Homo sapiens: one gene and its partners. The protein of the gene in region 1 purifies or fractionates together with the protein of each later gene. This does not show direct contact. Each region holds a gene or a part of one and is shown on either strand. Other genes may lie near its edges.

What was found.
Region 2: the proteins of APOOL (region 1) and DNAJC11 purify together in Homo sapiens (affinity purification with mass spectrometry; one large-scale study listed by BioGRID and IntAct). This does not show direct contact.
Region 3: the proteins of APOOL (region 1) and SFXN1 purify together in Homo sapiens (affinity purification with mass spectrometry, with the first as the bait; one large-scale study listed by BioGRID). This does not show direct contact.

What each region holds. Positions count from the first base shown.
Region 1 is NC_000023.11:85,073,217-85,076,950, forward strand, and holds part of APOOL (MICOS complex subunit MIC27 precursor), read left to right. Parts: intron 1-781; coding exon 782-895; intron 896-1,057; coding exon 1,058-1,175; coding exon of another isoform or gene 1,176-1,184; intron 1,185-3,734. UniProt on the Homo sapiens protein: Component of the MICOS complex, a large protein complex of the mitochondrial inner membrane that plays crucial roles in the maintenance of crista junctions, inner membrane architecture, and formation of contact sites to the outer membrane.
Region 2 is NC_000001.11:6,695,258-6,698,991, reverse strand, and holds part of DNAJC11 (dnaJ homolog subfamily C member 11), read left to right. Parts: intron 1-3,734.
Region 3 is NC_000005.10:175,509,560-175,513,059, forward strand, and holds part of SFXN1 (sideroflexin-1), read left to right. Parts: intron 1-549; coding exon 550-648; intron 649-1,891; coding exon 1,892-1,967; intron 1,968-2,551; coding exon 2,552-2,637; intron 2,638-3,500. UniProt on the Homo sapiens protein: Amino acid transporter importing serine, an essential substrate of the mitochondrial branch of the one-carbon pathway, into mitochondria.

The DNA of each region.
Region 1 (3,734 bases):
TATGTTTGTAGAAATTATAATCCTGAAAAATACCTCAAAACATCTTCAAAACTTGAAAAATCAATGGCTGTTGAAATTACTTTAACTAAAATGAACAAAAGCATTGGAGAAGAATAGGAAAAAGAAGAAATCAGAAGTAGATTTTCAAAGAGAAATAGAGATGAATGAAAATAACGGTAACTTTAGGAATTCAGCCAGCATCCTGGCCTCTGCTTGAGTATATTTATCAGTCATTGTTTATTTTACCTTTCTACCAAAAAAGAATATTATTCTTTGGAGGAATTAGTTGATGCCTTTTATTTCTTTATGAATGGAGAAAGCACCATCAAATTTTAAGCAAAAGCATTAACTTTGTAGCATGTTAAAAATCTCATTTTCTCAGTCAGCAGTTTATTATCTCAAACTATATTCCCCAAACTCCTGTTAATAGACACAGTTTTCACTTATATCAAATCACCGTGTTATATACCTTAAATAGATACAATTTTATATATGTCAATCTAATCTCACTAAAGCTGAAAAAAATTAAAAAAATAGACATAGTTTTAAATTTATGTTACAATGTGAATGCAGATTATACATTTCTTATAACCTTTGCATGACACAAAAAATTTTTCATATAAGATTTTAGAAATGGTGCTTTGTGTTATATGATTTAGAGATTTATATCTTTATTGATTCTGACTTGAGTGTTCATATAAAATACCTGACAAATCTAAAATACATTTTTAATTTTAACTTTTAAAAATATGTTATTTGACTTACTTTTTGTTTTAATTAGGTAACAGCAAAAAAGGTATATGCTACAAGCCAGCAAATTTTTGGAGCAGTTAAATCATTGTGGACAAAAAGCAGCAAAGAAGAGTCACTCCCTAAACCTAAAGAAAAAACTAAGGTAGAGTTTACATGGAGCAAGACGGTCAACATTGAGTTTTGTTTGGGTGGGTGTTGGCTTGTAATGAGGGTACTGGACAGAGGTCGAGGATAAAATGAGAAAGTAGATGAAGGAAATAGTAAAATGATTTACTTATGAAGGAAAAATCTGTTTGGTAAACAGCTAGGATCCTCTTCCGAAATAGAAGTACCTGCAAAAACAACTCACGTCTTGAAACACTCAGTGCCCTTGCCAACAGAACTCAGCTCTGAAGCAAAGACCAAATCAGAATCCACTTCAGGTTTGTTGGGTATAAGTCAATTTTGTTTTCATTCTTTTCTTAAATAATTTGATAGCATTATCATTAGTGGTTTGAACTTAAGATGTGTTCTCCCCATAAATATTTTGTCTTTCTCATATCTGTGGTTTCTGTTTCTTTTTAGGTTATGAGGTACTTAAGTATCTGCAATTGCTTTAAATTATCACATAGTTCATAATATAGATCTTTTAATGTGAGTATATAGAGTAACACTGACAGGTTGATTAGGTGAAGCATTTAATATAACTTTATAAATTTGAGCTATTAGGTGGGGGAAAATGGGCCTTTCTAGATTCTGTAATTTTAAAGGGATGAGTCACACCTACATAAAGAAATGTCAGCTTCCATTTTTTGTGCTATTTACCTATCAGTCTCCCTGTCAATCTTAAGACTTTTATTTTTATTAAGTTTAGTTTTACTAAGTTTAGGCACCAAAAGAACTTTCAGCATCAAATATTAGAAATATTATCCATTATAATACTTATAACATTGCTAGTATTCCATACTGGCAATAAACACTTTGTGGGACCAAGCAGTGACAATTATACTTTCTAAACAAATACTGCTGTGATTTTACTGTGATCAAAAAGAAGGTGACAAAGTGTTTAATACCATTTTGACAATGTATTCATATTGATTTGCATAGGTTTATCTATATAGATACCTATATAGATATCTATATAATTACAATGTGAATTATAAAACCCGCTAAGTTGTCTTATTGCAAAGGAAGGTGGCTAATTCAGCGGTTGGGGAATAATAATAATATGCACCCTTTATCGAGCACATACTGTGATGCAGAGAGCTAGAAGTATATTATGTTATTCAGCCCTTACCCACAAAGCAAAACAAAAACCTCTGCTGGATCGGTAATTATTCCCATTTTATGATGAAGAGACTGAGACTCAGGGAGCTAAAATAAGTTGCCCCAAATCATATAGCTTGTGAGTAGCAGAGTTCTGTTTATGGCCTAGATCTTCTTGACATCAAAGTCTAAGTTCTTTCCATTGTCTATAGATTATCTAATTTAAAACTGGAAGTTAGTCTCTAATTTCAGCCTCCTCCTCTCACTTAATCTTCATAAAAACTGTCATTGAATAACAAACATGATATGAGTTTTACTATTTTCCTCTGTCCTCTCTCTTTTCTAATCAAGAGGAGCTATACAGTTTTTAGACTCTGAATAATCTACCAGTGACCATATTCTCACAAGAATATAATGTATGGTCATTTTTCCACATGCCTTTTAATTCCAGAGTATCTTTATGAAGATGAAACATACTACAGCTTAACAGTGGGACCAAAACCTTTCCAAGCTAATGTCTTTTCCTCACACATCTAGATTCTGGAACCCTTTATTTGCCTGTCTTGGGTGATGTGGTATATGAAAAGCATTCTATGGAGACAATGCAGAGGGAGAAAGAGATGCCAGTGCTACTTACTCATTCTTATCATAGATGTCTTGGTCAGTTTGAGCTGCTGTAAAAAATACCATAGACTGGGTGGCTTATAAACAACAGAAATTTATTTCTCACAGTTCTAGAGACTGAAATTCTGAGATCAGGGTGCCAACATGGTCAGGTTCTGGTGAAGACCCTCTTCTGGCTTGTAGACAGCCTACTTCTCATTGTATTCTCACATGGCAGAGAAGAGAGGGAAGCAGGCTCTCTCAAGATTCATAAGGGCACTACTGATCCCATTCACAAAGGCTGTACCCTCATCACTTCCTCTAATTCTAACCACTTCCTAAAGCTCTCCATCTCCTAATACCATCACAATGGGGGAGATAGGGTCTCAACATGTGAATTTTGGGGGGACACCAACACGCAGTACATAACAATATATCATTTGGCGTTTATTATACAGTATAACCTTGGGATTCACCATTTCCACGTTTCATATGTAGAATAAAACATTTTTTTTTTTTTGGCCATGAGAAACAGTAGTGATTGTGAGCACAGGTTATAGAATAAGACTTGAATCGAAATCCCAGATCCAGCATTTACTAGTTCTGTTACCTGGGGCAAGTTATCAAACACCTCAAGCCTCAGTCTCCTCATTCAACAAAAAGGGGACAATAATAGTTCTCACATGGTTGTGAGGATTAAGTGAGATATTGCATGTAAAGCACTAACTGTAATGCCAGGGACATACTAAGGGGTATCAGTGGATATTAAAATATATCATTATTATTATTTGCCTAGAGCAGTTAGCCATTTTGATGAGAAACAGATTTTCATTGAGCATACTTAAAGAGCAAGTCACTTACCTAGTGAGCCTAGCCATGGCTATAACTTATCACCATACAGAACAGGTAGGGTGTACTGTCCAACTATATGTTGTGGCTCTGAATATGAGTTTGGTTGTTCTCTACCATCTCATGTACATTAATGGAGAAAATTGCTATTTTGGGAATCACAAATTTAGAATTTGGTGTCATAGACCTCTTCAAGAATCTGATGAAAGCAGAATGAAATCTCTCACAGTCTTGCAAGATTAATGTCCCTCTAAAGCAGAAGTTGACAAACTATGGCCTGTATG
Region 2 (3,734 bases), on another chromosome or scaffold:
AGTATATATAAAAACATAGATATAAATATTTATATATAAATATATATATTTATATATATAATTAGACTTCACCCAGGCTGGAGTGCAGTGGTGCAGTCGTGGCTCATAGCAGCCTCGACCTTCCCCGGCTCAGGTGATCCTCCCACCTCAGCCACCAGAGTAGCTGGTATTACAGGCACACACCACCACAGCTGGCTGATTTTTGTAGTTTTTGTAGAGACAGGGTCTCACTGTGTTGCCCAGGCTGGTCTCAAACTCCTGAGCTCAAGCAGTCCACCCATCTCAGCCTCCCAAAGTGCTGGGATTACAGGCATGAGCCACTGCACCCAGCCAAAAAATATTTCTTAAATTTTTTTTTTTTTTTTACTTCTCCCAATGAGTGAAGGCACTTTCCATATTTATGGCTATATGGCTATAGGTTAAATCCATATGAAACATGCTCCCTTGCAGAAGTCACTTTCTGTTGTCTTCGTCAGCAAACTCGGTGTTAAATGTCATACTCAGGTGTGGTGTGCTGGTTTTCCATCCCGGGATTCCATTAGAAGCTCTGAAGGTGATGTCTGAACTTGATATTTGCTGGAATTTTTTGTGTGAAATCAAACGTGAAGTTGAAATAACGTGATTTAGTTGGAAAAAAGTCAGAGTAATCTTAAATCTTAATGTGTGGTTGGAAGAATATCTTAATACCTGTTTGTGTGTTTGCTGTCAGTTCTAGAGTAGTTGCCATTTAAGTATAGCTGTGAGAGGCAAGGCCCTGTTCCCACTGATACTTCAAAGTACCTTCAAAAGAGTGTCCTCAAAACTCTCAATGTTCAGTAGAGTTCAGAGAGTTTTCTTTAGAAATCTCAAATGGAAACAATTCTAGACAAAACCAGGGAATCCTACTTTAAAATTATAAGCATAGGCTGGGCGCGTGGCTCAAGCCTGTAATCCCAGCACTTTGGGAGGCCAAGACGGGCGGATCACGAGGTCAGGAGATGGAGACCATCCTGACTAACACGGTGAAACCCCGTCTGTACTAAAAATACAAAAAATTAGCCGGGCGTGGTGGCGGGCGCCTGTAGGAGGCTGAGGCAGGAGAATGGTGTGAACCCAGGAGGCGGAGCTTGCAGTGAGCCGAGATTGCGCCACTGCACTCCAGCCTGGGTGACAGAGCAAGACTCTGTCTCAAAAAAAAAAAAATTATAAGCATAATAGAGGTATATAATTGGATTAATATAGAAATGTCAACAATCAGCTGAAGAATCTCCCTCTCCAGGATTTAAACTTTAAAATATCCCCTTAAATTTGTATTCTAGAGCAGGGGTCCTCAACCCCCTGGCCATGGACCAGTACTGGTCTGTGGCTTGTTAGGAATTGGGCCGCACAGCAGGAGGTGAGTGGTGGGCAAGCAAGCGGTTAGCGTCGGGCAAGCAAGCGGTTAGCATCGGGCAAGCAAGCATCACCGCCTGAGCTCTGCCTGTCAGATTGGTGGTGGCATTAGCTTCTCATAGGAGCATGAACCCTATTGGGAACTGCACATGCAAGGGATCTAGGTTAGGTCCTCTTTATGAGAATTTGACTAATGCCTGATGATCCCAGGTGGAACAGTTTCATTCCACTCCCACTAGTCTGTGGAAAAATTATCTTCCATGAAACCAGTCCGTGGTGCTAAAAGGTTGGAGACCCCATTGTTGCCGCCGTTGGAGAGAGTGAAGCAGGCAGCTGGAAAGGACCCCCCGTTCTCCTATGACAAGACACATGATCTTTAATGATTCTCCTTCTAGATTTCCTGTTTACAGAGCAGGGCCATCATCTGTCGTGCCTGCCTCACACTGAGAGGAGGGAGTACTTTATCACTCACTGGGCACACCAAAGCCAGACAGGTTTTCTGGTTTAGTGTTAGATGCATCATCTGGTTCCTAAAATCTCACTCCTCTGAGATTTCCAGGATGATTTTCCAAAATTTATTTGGAGAAAGGATTCCTTAACTATAAATCAGAGTTAAATTTACCTGATCCATTAATTAGGAAATTTAATTGACACATTTCAAACCTAATTTATTCCCAAGACAAATGGCTACAGTTCTAACTTTATCATTGTCTTTGAAAGAATTTCATTTTTGCAGTGTTTGTAACCTGTTTGAAGACCTCTGGTCCCAATTGTTTTAACCTTAAGGAGCCATCCTCCTTTTCAACTTTTAAACACTTTTGGAAAAACACAGTTAAGTAAAAAATGAAGTTGTTAATAAATAGTTTTTTTCTTGCAGTCCATATATGGAGGTCAGTGTTCTGAGATCTTCATCCTTCCAGAACAGCCATGAAACTAGAAGTACAAAAGTATCACCTACCAGTAAAAAGTTTACCCCAAGTCCCTGCATTTTCATTCCTTCTCTGGTACAGGGTAGATCATTATTTTCACAATTGTGTGTTGTTGGGGTTTCCTTAGCTGCAGGTTACAGCCACAGAGTGAGGCCCAACAGTTGAGTTTGAGCTGCAGATGGAAAGGAAGGGCTAGAAGAGTAGAGGAAGGTCCCCTGGTCACTGGCAAGATTGTCCTAGGGTCAAAGTCACCCACAAAGAAGGAGACAGCAGACCCTCCAATCAGGACCACTGACTCAGCCATCTGCAGAAATTGACATGTAAAAGGCTCAACTGTGCCAATTTGAGCGACTCAAATACCTAAAGCAGTGAGGTGGTGTGTGTTTACACATTTATTGCTTTCTTATCAAACTTCATGATGGGCAGTTAATTTTGTCTTAATAAAAAATAAAGATGGCTCTGAAAAGGTCAGTTCCTTCATTTTCCATCTACTACATTATGTTAAAGTTTGATATTTATAATGACTCCAGTTAAATGTGTGCCTCAGGCACATAGAATTAAGCCTCGGTTGTCCAAAAACAACTTATTCAGATGTCTGCATTCCATAGGGTGTTCTGTAAGCCAAGAGGCTGAGAAGCAAGAATTTCAGCCCATGCTGCCTGCCTCTTGTGTGACCTTCAACGAGTCATTTAACCTCAGCCTCTACTTACCTGCAGAATGGAGGCACCAGTACTTCTTAGTTAACAATGGGATAGAGGGAGGCCACTATGTAGGGCTTTGCAGCTGGAGTCCAGTATTCAAATCCCATTTTACTCTTCTGGAAGTTCTATGCTTCAACGCTAGTAATTTAACCTTTCTGTTTCTCAATTTCTTTTTTTTTTTTTGAGATGGAGTCTCACACTGTCACCCTGGCTGGAGTGCAATGGCGCAATCTCAGCTCACTGCAACCTCCACCTCCTAGGTTCATGCAATTCTCCTGCCTCAGCCTCCCAAGTAGCTGGGATTACAGGCACACACCAGTACACCCGGCTAATTTTTTTTTTTTTTTTTTTTTTTTTTTTTTTAGTAGAGATAGGGTTTCACTATGTTGGCCAGACTGGTCTCAAACTCCTGACGTCGTGATCCATCCGCCTCGGCCTCCCAAAGTGCTGGGATTACAGGCATGAGCCACTGCACCTGGCCATCAGTTTCTTTAATGTTAGAATGTAGGTAACAGGTAATAATGGCTTAAGCACTTACTGTAGGCCAGGATGACCTGTGTGGTATGTGCGTTGCTAGGTGCTGAGAATGTATATAAATTGCCTGTCATAAGTAGGTATTTAGTTAATATATATTGTTATTTCTTGGATTTTGATAAGTTTGAAGTTTTGCTTACTTTAAAAAAAGACATAAGGATTGGGGGGTGGCTCACACCTGTAATTCCAGCACCTTAGG
Region 3 (3,500 bases), on another chromosome or scaffold:
TAGTTGTTCAAAAGGAGGTTGAATTTTTTTTCTAAATCTTAGCCCCAAAAGAGAATGAAGTGGAGAAGGAAAATAAAGAGTCTGCAGGCAAATTCTCCTTTGACTCCATTCATATAGATATAGGTATAGGTATAAGTGTAGATATAGGCACATTAAAGGTGTATGTGTAGACATAGACATATAGCATTGCAAGTGCTGTTAGGAGGGCCCAGGACCGCTTAGCCTACAAATTGTATCTTTTTTCCCCAAGAGAAGGGATCTGGCATTTATTGAATGTCTATTCTGTACCAGGCTCTCTACAAATTTTATCTTACTTCATCCTCATAGTAACCCTCTGAGCTTGGTGTTATCTATATCTACGGAATGAGGAAACTGATGATCCCAGAGGATAAAAGCTTGCCCAGCACACAGATCCTAAGCCTGTGTGGCCTTATGGCTTTCTCCCTTCCCCAGTACGTCTCCTCTCTGGTTACTGGTGTTCACGTTTTCTGTTCCATGCCGCGGCTGGGCCCAGTGATGGTGGGTATGTGACGGATGCCTCTGTTTTAGGACTACGCCGGCTGTGCTGTTCTGGCAGTGGATTAACCAGTCCTTCAATGCCGTCGTCAATTACACCAACAGAAGTGGAGACGCACCCCTCACTGTCAAGTAAGGCTACGAGAATTGACCACTCTCTGCAGTTCTTCAACCTTCATTTTATTAAGTGGTGATACTCTCCTGTTTAAAAAAGCCTATGTGTGCATATTTTTATATTGTTCAGAATATTATGTAGCATCCTTTTTTGTAGCTTTTTTCTTTTTTAAAGTAAAGTGTTTCATTTTCTCTCTCCCTATCAAGAAAACAGTCTTCTTCCAGCCTGCCTTCTCAGACATTACTCGTGCCTTTGGAGGTACTGGTAGGATGTTACCTCCTTCTCACCCTGGAGCTCATGGCCCTGTAGAACACATGGCAGGCAGCACCGGCCTGGCCTCTGATAAGTGACAGGCTGTTCCGCCATCTACCCTGCCTGAGTTGACAGACACCAACGTTAAGAGTAGAGGAGACAAAGTGTGGTCTCTGCAGAAATCAAGGGGAGACCATGGCGGTGTGAACTTTATATCTGATATGTTTTTAAAATAGCTCATCTGTGGAGTCCAAAAGAAAGCAATGAGTTTTAATTTTTTGTCACCTGTTAAAAAAAAAATAGGCTCACAAGATTAGTTAACCAAAAACGTTAGTTAGCATAATTGTATTACACTTGAAAGAAAAGTGCTTCTCTTTTTTATCACTTAAAATTGCTTTTGACAACACATATTCTTCTACTATTGTTATATGGAACAAAGGATCTTGAAATCTGCAGCCAAGTGGTGTTTATTGCAATTAAAATTTCTTTTAAAAGAAGAGAGAATTGCTTGGGCTTTATAGTTTTTGGATGATAAGACTTAGTATTTTTATACAGTTAAGATATCATTTTTTAAATGGCAGCACTTCATTTTTGCTTTCAGTGTGTATATTAATATTTTGAGAAATATTTTTAAGCAAATATGCCCCAAACATTTAGCCCAATATGCATTCCCCTGTATTCATAGCTTCCTACACACAGCTCCCCTCCTTCTCACGAATACAAAGTCTGTATGTTTATTTATTTATTTTAACCAACTCACTTCAAAGAATACATGTCTACTTTTTTGGAGTTATAGTCAAGATACGTGTGAAGAATCCCATTGTTTATGGATCTGCTTGCTTTTTCTCTAGATTCCCCTACTTGTGGAGTGATAGTGAATGTTGTTTTGTAGACTCTTCATTCTGAATCATGCTCTTTTATATTTCCCTTTTATTTCTTCAAATAATGTTGCACCAGAGTTTCCTGACATGCCCTCGTCGTCCACACGATATCCTTTTTTCTTTTCAGTGAGTTGGGAACAGCTTACGTTTCTGCAACAACTGGTGCCGTAGCAACAGCTCTAGGACTCAATGCATTGACCAAGGTACTCAGATTTTTATTTCCATAATAAAGCTGTTTAATTTGTTATCACCTGCCTGGCTCTAAATCCCTCTATTATTTCTTAAACTAGTTCAAGTCATATGGCTTTCTTGTTATAGTGCTTATCTTCAGCTGCATATTTTAGTTATATCTTCCAATAAGTTTGGGAAGAGTTGTCACCAGTAACACCTACCAGGACTGTGGTCTGTGCCTGACTCTGTGTACGAAGTGCTAAATGTTCACCCATCCTGACAGCCCACCAGAGGCATTGCAGAGGGCAGTGTGCCTCAGGCCACAGCTCTGAAGAGAGGCAAGAGCATCTCTCTCTCTCTCTCTCTCTCCCCACTCCAAAGCCCATACTCCTGCAACCACACTTAGCTACAAGGCCTTAGAAGCTTGCATGGTCCCAGCACACCCATGTGGGAAATATACAAATACTGCTAGGAAAAGTTTTGAAAGCATTCTTGGCCTGAGTTTCTATGCAAATGGGACTCTGCATTTTTCAGAGTTTTCAAGAAGAAATAAGTTATTTCCATTTACTAGTACAGGAAAAATAAGATAAAGCTCTTGAAATTTTCTCCTCTGCAGCATGTCTCACCACTGATAGGACGTTTTGTTCCCTTTGCTGCCGTAGCTGCTGCTAATTGCATTAATATTCCATTAATGAGGCAAAGGTAAGACGAATATGCACTCTTAGTAGGGACATGTGCTTGACAGGAGAGTCTCTTGTAATAATTAGCTTTGTTGAAACTTTCAAATGCTTGTTTTAATATGTATAGGTGAAATTATATGAGATCTTGGATTTCTTTTGAAATACTCTGGGGTTGGGGATGAGGATGGGCGTCTTGAGAAAACAAGCTTAGCGATGAGTTACTGATTATTGAAGCAGACTGAGGAGTGCGGGGAGGGGGCTGATGCTGGAATAGTCTTTCTATGTCCGTATAATAAAAAGTTTAAAAGATATATCTCAAGCTTACATTGAGTTGTGCTTGGGTTGGACAAAGTCTATCCAAAGAAAGTTTATTCTCTAAAATAGATTCCTTTTTTTTCTCCAGAATTTTCTTTTGGGGCTTAAAGTACATTATTCTATATCTTTGGAAGTATTGTTGTAGAACTGGCAAAAATTAAAGGAGAAGAAAGAACAACAAAAGCATTTTGGAATGGATAACGAAAAACAGGGGTAACGGTAGAAGTTATACTTAGTGTTAGTAAATATAGTTAATAAATATACAGTAGGGCCATGTGCGAGTGACTGTTTCCATGTCAGCATATTAAGTTTGTTGACTTAATAATGCTGTGTATTATATCTGTTTCTCATTTGGAAAGTTGCTCAAATTTGCACATGAGCATAGATTGAAGTTAGTGTGTCCACCCTTTGAATCATATTGTTCCTGAAAAAGGTACACCCTGTTTTAAAAGTTTACTAGTGTTGTTTTACTTTTATTTCTATCAAAGGAGGATTAAACTTATCCATGGTATTTAAAAATAGATGTGTCTGCTGGGCGCAGTGGCTCACACCTGTAATCTCAGCACTTTG